Regions from separate parts of the Homo sapiens genome. Here region 1 is linked to region 2. Evidence: fine-mapped expression QTL. A gene starts in region 2. The other region holds a variant in brackets. All regions are shown on one strand. Distances are from middle to middle.

Evidence for each region. PIP is the estimated chance that this variant, and not a neighbour inherited with it, causes the effect.
Region 1: its variant is the best candidate, but not a certain one, in a credible set for the expression of MTDH in whole blood (TOPMed, PIP 0.59).

Annotation. Positions count from the first base shown.
Region 1 is chr8:97,589,812-97,594,052 of GRCh38, forward strand. No RefSeq gene overlaps it. Among named protein-coding and RNA genes, the nearest start is that of MTDH, 52 kb to the right of the region's middle. The variant A/G (reference allele first, on the strand shown) is at 1,978.
Region 2 is chr8:97,642,134-97,646,349 of GRCh38, forward strand. MTDH (metadherin) reads left to right here and starts at 2,051. Exons shown (of 12, transcript NM_178812.4): 1 at 2,051-2,754. The coding sequence starts at 2,374. RefSeq lists silencers at 1,639-1,748, 1,929-2,388, 2,659-2,728, 3,012-3,180 and enhancers at 1,901-2,881, 2,882-3,860.

The sequences.
Region 1 (4,241 bases), 52 kb before region 2:
ATGAGTGAGAACATGTGGTGTTCGGTTTTTCGTCCTTGTGATAGTTTACTGAGAATGATTTCCAATTTCATCCATGTCCCTACAAAGGACATGAACTCATCATTTTTTATGGCTGCATAGTATTCCATGGTGTATATGTGCCACATTTTCTTAATCCAGTCTATCATTGTTGGACATTTGGGTTGGTTCCAAGTCTCTGCTATTGTGAATAGTGCCGCAATAAACATACGTGTGCATGTGTCTTTATAGCAGCATGATTTATAGTCCTTTGGGTATATACTCAGTAATGGGATGGCTGGGTCAAATGGTATTTCTAGTTCTAGATCCCTGAGGAATCGCCACACTGACTTCCACCATGGTTGAACTAGTTTACAGTCCCACCAACAGTATAAAAGTGTTCCTATTTCTCCACATCATCTCCAGCACCTGTTGTTTCCTGACTTTTTAATGATTGACATTCTAACTGGTGTGAGATGGTATCTCATTGTGGTTTTGATTTGCATTTCTCTGATGGCCAGTGATGGTGAGCATTTTTTCACGTGTCTGTTGGCTGCATAAATGTCTTCTTTTGAGAAGTGTCTGTTCATGTCCTTTGCCCACTTTTTGATGGGGTTGTTTGTTTTTTTCTTGTAAATTTGTTTGAATTCATTGTAGCTTCTGGATATTAGCCCTTTGTCAGATGAGTAGGTTGCAAAAATTTTCTCCCATTTTGTAGGTTGCCTGTTCACTCTGGTGGTAGTTTCTTTTGCTGTGCAGAAGCTCTTTAGTTTAATTAGATCTCATTTATCAATTTTGGCTTTTGTTGCCATTGCTTTTGGTGTTTTAGACATGAAGGCCTTGCCCATGCCTATGTCCTGAATGGTATTGCCTAGGTTTTCTTCTAGGGTTTTTATGGTTTTAGGTCTAACGTTTAAGTCTTTAATCCATCTTAAATTAATTTTTGTATAAGGTGTAAGGAAGGGATCCACTTTCAGCTTTCTACATATGGCTAGCAACTTTTCCCAGCACCATTTATTAAATAGGGAATCCTTTCCCCATTGCTTGTTTTTCTCAGGTTTGTCAAAGATCAGATAGTTGTAGATATGTGGCGTTATTTCTGAGGGCTCTGTTCTGTTCCATTGATCTATATCTCTGTTTTGGTACCAGTACCATGCTGTTTTGGTTACTGTAGCCTTGTAGTATAGTTTGAAGTCAGGTAGCGTGACGCCTCCAGCTTTGTTCTTTTGGCTTAGGATTGACTTGGCAATGCGGGCTCTATTTTGGTTCCATATGAACTTTAAAGTAGTTTTTTCCAATTCTGTGAAGAAAGTCATTGGTAGCTTGATGGGGATGGCATTGAATCTATAAATTACCTTGGGCAGTATGGCCATTTTCACGATATTGATTCTTCCTACCCATGAGCATGGAATGTTCTTCCATTTCTTTGTATCCTCTTTTATTTCATTGAGCAGTGGTTTGTAGTTCTCCTTGAAGAGGTCCTTCACATCCCTTGTAAGTTGGATTCCTAGGTATTTTATTCTCTTTGAAGCAATTGTGAATGGGAGTTCACTCATGATTTGGCTCTCTGTTTGTCTGTTATTGGTGTATAAGAATGCTTGTGATTTTTGTACATTGATTTTGTATCCTGAGACTTTGCTGAACTTCCTTATCAGCTTAAGGAGATTTTGGGCTGAGACAATGGGGTTTTCTAGATATACAATCATGTCATCTGCAAACAGGGACAATTTGACTTCCTCTTTTCCTAATTGAATACCCTTTATTTCCTTCTCCTGCCTGATTGCCCTGGCCAGAACTTCCAACACTATGTTGAATAGGAGTGGTGAGAGAGGGCATCCCTGTCTTGTGCCAGTTTTCAAAGGGAATGCTTCCAGTTTTTGCCCATTCAATATGATATTGGCTGTGGGTTTGTCATAGATAGCTCTTATTATTTTAAGATACGTCCCATCAATACCTAATTTATTGAGAGTTTTTAGCATG[A/G]AGGGTTGTTGAATTTTGTCAAAGGCCTTTTCTGCATCTATTGAGATAATCATGTGGTTTTTGTCTTTGGTTCTGTTTATATGCTGGATTACATTTATTGATTTCCATATGTTGAACCAGCCTTGCATCCCAGGGATGAAGCCAAATTGATCATGGTGGATAAGCTTTTTGAGGTGCTGCTGGATTCGGTTTGCCAGTATTTTATTGAGGATTTTTGCATCAATGTTCATCAAGGATATTGGTCTAAAATTCTCTTTTTTGGTTGTGTCTCTGCCTGGCTTTGGTATCAGGATGATGCTGGCCTCATAAAATGAGTTAGGGAGGATTCCCTCTTTTTCTATTGATTGGAATAGTTTCAGAAGGAATGGTACCAGTTCCTCCCTGTACCTCTGGTAGAATTCGGCTGTGAATCCATCTGGTCCTGTACTCTTTGGTTGGTAAGCTATTGATTATTGCCACAATTTCAGAGCCTGTTATTGGTCTATTCAGAGAGTCAACTTCTTCCTGGTTTAGTCTTGGGAGGGTGTATGTGTCGAGGAATTTATCCATTTCTTCTAGATTTTCTAGTTTATTTGCATAGAGGTGTTTGTAGTATCTCTGATGGTAGTTTGTATTTCTGTGGGATTGGTGGTGATATCCCCTTTATCATTTTTTATTGCGTCTATTTGATTCTTCTCTCTTTTCTTCTTTGTCTTGCTAGCGGTCTATCAATTTTGCTGATCCTTTCAAAAAACCAGCTCCTGGATTCATTAATTTTTTGAAGGGTTTTTTGTGTCTCTATTTCCTTCAGTTCTGCTCTGATTTTAGTTATTTCTTGCCTTCTGCTAGCTTTTGAATGTGTTTGCTCTTGCTTTTCTAGTTCTTTTAATTGTGATGTTAGGGTGTCAATTTTGGATATTTCCTGCTTTCTCTTGTGGGCATTTAGTGCTATAAATTTCCCTCTACACACTGCTTTGAATGTGTCCCAGAGATTCTGGTATGTTGTGTCTTTGTTCTCGTTGGTTTCAAACAACATCTTTATTTCTGCCTTCATTTTGTTATGTACCCAGTAGTCATTCAGGAGCAGGTTGTTCAGTTTCCATGTAGCTGAGCGGTTTTGAGTGAGTTTCTTAATCCTGAGTTCTAGTTTGATTGCACTGTGGTCTGAGAGACAGTTTGTTATAATTTCTGTTCTTTTACATTTGCTGAGGAGAGCTTTACTTCCAACTATGTGGTCAATTTTGGAATAGGTGTGGTGTGGTGCTGAAAAAAATGTATATTCTGTTGATTTGGGGTGGAGAGTTCTGTAGATGTCTATTAGGTCCACTTGGTGCAGAGCTGAGTTCAATTCCTGGGTATCTTTGTTAACTTTCTGTCTCATTGATCTGTCTAATGTTGACAGTGGGGTGTTAAAGTCTCCCATTATTATTGTGTGGGAGTCTAAGTCTCTTTGTAGGTCACTCGGGACTTGCTTTATGAATCTGGGTGCTCCTGTATTGGGTGCATATATATTTAGGATAGTTAGCTCTTCTTGTTGAATTGATCCCTTTACCATTAAGTAATGGCCTTCTTTGTCTCTTTTGATCTTTGTTGGTTTAAAGTCTGTTTTATCAGAGACTAGGATTGCAACCCCTGCCTTTTTTTGTTTTCCATTTGCTTGGTAGATCTTCCTCCATCCTTTTATTTTGAGCCTATGTGTGTCTCTGCACGTGAGATGGGTTTCCTGAATACAGCACACTGATGGGTCTTGACTCTTTATCCAATTTGCCAGTCTGTGTCTTTAATTGGAGAATTTAGTCCATTTACATTTAAAGTTAATATTGTTATGTGTGAATTTGATCCTGTCATGATGATGTTAGCTGGTTATTTTGCTCGTTAGTTGATGCAGTTTCTTCCTAGCCTCGATGGTCTTTACAATTTGGCATGATTTTGCAGTGGCTGGTACTGGTTGTTCCTTTCCATGTTTAGTGCTTCCTTCAGGAGCTCTTTTAGGGCAGGCCTGGTGGTGACAAAATCTCTCAGCATTTGCTTGTCTGTAAAGTATTTTATTTCTCCTTCACTTATGAAGCTTAGTTTGGCTGGACATGCAATTCTGGGTTGAAAATTCTTTTCTTTAAGAATGTTGAATATTGGCCCCCACTCTCTTCTGGCTTGTAGAGTTTCTGCCGAGAGATCCGCTGTTAGTCTGATGGGCTTCCCTTTATGGGTAACCCGACCTTTCTCTCTGGCTGCCCTTAACATTTTTTCCTTCATTTCAACTTTGGTGAATCTGACAATTATGTGTC
Region 2 (4,216 bases):
CTTTACATATGGCACCACTTCAATTTAAAGGTTTTTTTGTTTTGTTTTGAGACAGAATCTCCTTCTGTCACCCAGGCTGGAGTGCAGTAGCACGATCTCAGCTCACTGCAGCCTCCACCTTCTGGGTTCAAGTTATTTTCATGCCTCAGCCACCTGAGTAGCTGGGATTACAGGCGTGAGCCACAGCACCAGCCATTATTGTAATAGTTTAATTTGAAAATTCACAGGTGGGCCGGGAGCGGTGGCTCACGCCTGTAATCCCAGCACTTTGGGAGGCCCATGCGCGCGGATCACGAAGTCAGGGCGACTGCAGCCTCGGCAACACAGCGAGACTCCATCTCAAAAAATAAAAAATAAAAAATTCACAGATGTTTATCTAGAATGGTCAGAATAGTCAGTGGAACTTCTTAGGAAAATCATGACCCTTCACATCTCTAGAACCAAAACACGTGCAGAAATCTTATTTCACAAATATAAATGGAATTTGGAAACTTTGAGTTAAAGCAGATCCCAATAACATTTGCTAAGTTTTTGGCCTCCTAATTTAATTTAGTCTTTAATCATAAGTCTTGGCAAGTGTAGTATGCTTTTATTATTTATTATTTACAAAACTCCCTTCCACACATGAATCACAATATGCATTACGACACTGTTGCAAAATAGGTCAAAATACATTTTTGGTATTTGGTGGTTATTAATATTACCCCTGCTGTATTCCTTGAGAAAGCCTGTATTTAGTTCACTTAAGACAGTTGCTTACACGCTAATGATCATTTACCGATAAAATACAGAGTTTCCTTATAGCAAAATATAATCTTAAAACCCTAAGGCAGCCTTCAAGCATTTCCCTTATAATTAAAACCTGAAGGCCTGGCGTGGTGGCTCACGCCTGTAATCCCAGCACTTTGGGAGGCTGAGGTGGGCGGATCACGAGGTCAGGAGATCAAGACCATCCTGGCTAACACGGTGAAACCCCGTCTCTACTAAAAATACAAAAAATTAGCCGGGCGTGGTGGTGGGTGCCTATAGTCCCAGCTGCTCGGGAGGCTGAGGCAGGAGAATGGCTTGAACCCAGGAGGCGGACCTTGCAGTGAGCGGAGATAGTGCCACTGCACTCCAGCCCGGGCGACAGAGCGAGACTCTTGTCTCAAAAAAAAAAAATTTGAAAAGGCAGTTCGTTTCCTTCTATAGCTGCATCCCAGAGATGGTCAACATAGCATATAAAAATGGAATTTTTGCAAACCCCTTTTGCAGTGTTGTAGAAAAGCTTAAAATAAAACGTAACGAGAAAGCTCCCTCCATAAGTAAATACAATCTAATGTGCTTCCCCTTATGTGTTATTAAAGCTACAAATTAGTAGGAAAAGAATAGTGCCGCCCACGGGCTTTCCAACTTTTGAATTCTGGGGACTAACAACAGAGAGCAAGAGTGAATGAGCCAAACGACGCAAACGTGCCCTCGCCAGGCTGGCAACTGGTAGGCACGCAGTGTATTAGTTGCCCTGGAGAGAAACACCCTGGAGAGAAATACCCAATTTGTGAACTAAACCTAGGTCCCGGAAGAACAGTGTTCGGCGTCAGACTCCGTTGAGCTCATTCTGGAAGGATCCAACTGGCGCCACCAGGGAGAAAAAGCGATTCCACCTCAATAACACTCCAGAAAAAGGCATGAAGAGCCCTATACCTGCCAGGGCGACTTTGACCTAGACCCGGTGACCCGGTTCCTAGCGCTGCAGCCCTACCCGCCCCCCGCCCGCCCCCGCCTTGCACGGAGCCCCTCCTCTGTACTCATTCGTTGCGCCACGTCTCCTAACTCTGCGCCACCAGCCACCCCGCGAAGGCGTCCACCAATTAACCCCTCCCAGCTTCTGGTCTACAGTAACGGGTCCCCAACGCCGCGTCTTAACCAGGCCCGAACCGACCACCGCCAACCTTCCCTGACACGCCTTTGCCCCACCCGACCCCGCCCGCCCCCACGTGACGCCCACGCCCCGCCCACTGGCGCCCACGTGACCCACGGTCGTCCCCGCGCGCGGCGTGGATCGCGGCCCAAGCCGCCATTGTTCCGCCGAGGGAGGACAGCGGGGCCTGGCGCTGGCGCCGAGACGCCGCTTAGCGGCCGCCACTGGAGACACTCCCTCCCGCCTCCCGGGTCTCCTGGCGGCGGCGGAGTGAGGCTGACAGCGGGGAACCTGGGAGACCCCTCCGCCCTCCCCGCGGTGGCAGCGGCCGATCCCCGGCTCCGGCGCGAGGGACGGCCGCGATGCGCTCGGCCTGAGGTTACCCGGCCCGGCCCTTCCTCGCTTCCCTCGACTATTCCACTGCGTCTCCGCGCCCCGGCGTCATCCTGCGAGTCCCTCTGACGGGAGGGAAGATGGCTGCACGGAGCTGGCAGGACGAGCTGGCCCAGCAGGCCGAGGAGGGCTCGGCCCGGCTGCGGGAAATGCTCTCGGTCGGCCTAGGCTTTCTGCGCACCGAGCTGGGCCTCGACCTGGGGCTGGAGCCGAAACGGTACCCCGGCTGGGTGATCCTGGTGGGCACTGGCGCGCTCGGGCTGCTGCTGCTGTTTCTGCTGGGCTACGGCTGGGCCGCGGCTTGCGCCGGCGCCCGCAAAAAGCGGAGGAGCCCGCCCCGCAAGCGGGAGGAGGCGGCGGCCGTGCCGGCCGCGGCCCCCGACGACCTGGCCTTGCTGAAGAATCTCCGGAGCGAGGAACAGAAGAAGAAGAACCGGAAGAAACTGTCCGAGAAGCCCAAAGTGAGTATGGGATGAGCGGCAGTAGAGAACGGGCGAAGGGCGGGCGTGGAGACCCTCGAGCTTGGGGGAGGCCGCGCCCCAGCCGGGAAGGAAAAGAGTGCTTAGTCGAAAGCCGAGAGGCAGCACTCCCAAGTGGAGGAGGAGGTGATAGGTGGTCATGTTATTTGGGGAATGGGGGGAACTCAGGAAGTATAGGACGAGTGGGGAAGCCCAGTTTCGAGGAAGGAAGTTAGGAGGTCTGGGGGTCCGTTCAGATAGGCGCCCAGAGGTCAAGCCATCTTTGGGAACCGTCACCGCTAGAATAAGCACAGCATCCTTCCTTGAGGCCTGCAGAGTAGGCTGCATGTGGAGCGTAATGGGACCTTAAGGTGGTGTTAGGAAGTTGTATAAAGACTGCGCTCGGAAGACAGATGTCTATCTCAAGTCACATTGAGACAGTAGGCAGTGGAAGAAGTGCGGTGACCTAGAAATTCTGGGGCTTACACAGGATTAAAGGTGTCCAGGTCTAGACGCGCTTCCATTTTAGTTGGGACTGTTAAAGGGAAATGGTTGCCCATTCTTGTTCTGGCAAATGTGGCCAACAGAGGCCGGAACGGGAGCAAGGCAAGAGGGGGTCGGTTACCTAATACGCTTTGAGGTGTATGGTCCTGTGAGAAAGAGCTAAGGCGAGTTCAACGAACGAGTCTGTTGCACACTCTGTGGCGTGGTAGATTTGTGAAATAGAGTAAAGGGAGATGACAGGGCAGAATGGTGAAAGCCGAGAGAGGAATTCAGGCACCGATTTACTGGGCCACGTGTGGAAGTTGCAGAGGGCATCACGTCTGTCTTAGGCCTTCATGTTTTACGTTTACATTCTTTATTGCCATTCCCATGGTTCTCCCATTATATCTTTCATAGTTTTATGTATTTTTAAAAATATTTTACATTTGAGCAAATTGAGACTATGGAGGGTATGCAGAGTTAGAAACAGCACCTAACCTATTTTTATATCCAGCGAATTAAGATCTTCACCTTTTCAGTACAATTCAGTAAGCCAGTACGAAGGCCCTACCATGTGAAATTTGCACTCTGGTGTTTGGAGGGCAGTGCAAGGTATACACGTAGAGTCAGTGTTGGAGAGTAGTGGAGACAGATTCATAAATAATTAGAATTTTGCATAGACTGATAGGTGTTAAAGAGGTTTTAACTGAGTGTTAATGAGGTTTGGAGGGTAGGAGACATTTCACTGGAGGGCTTTAGGAAAGTTGTTGGAGGAAATGGGGTTTGAGTTCCAACTAACAAGAGTTTTGTTGGTAACAAACTCTAATCTCTAGATTAGAGATGTGACAGGTCACAGTTAGTGCATTATGAGGCCTGGATAGGCCTTCACGTTTTGCCTGCTGATTAAGAGATGCAAGATACATATGAAACCTGGAAAAGGCACAACTTTGTCAATGTGAATACTACCATAAGTTAGGAGAGG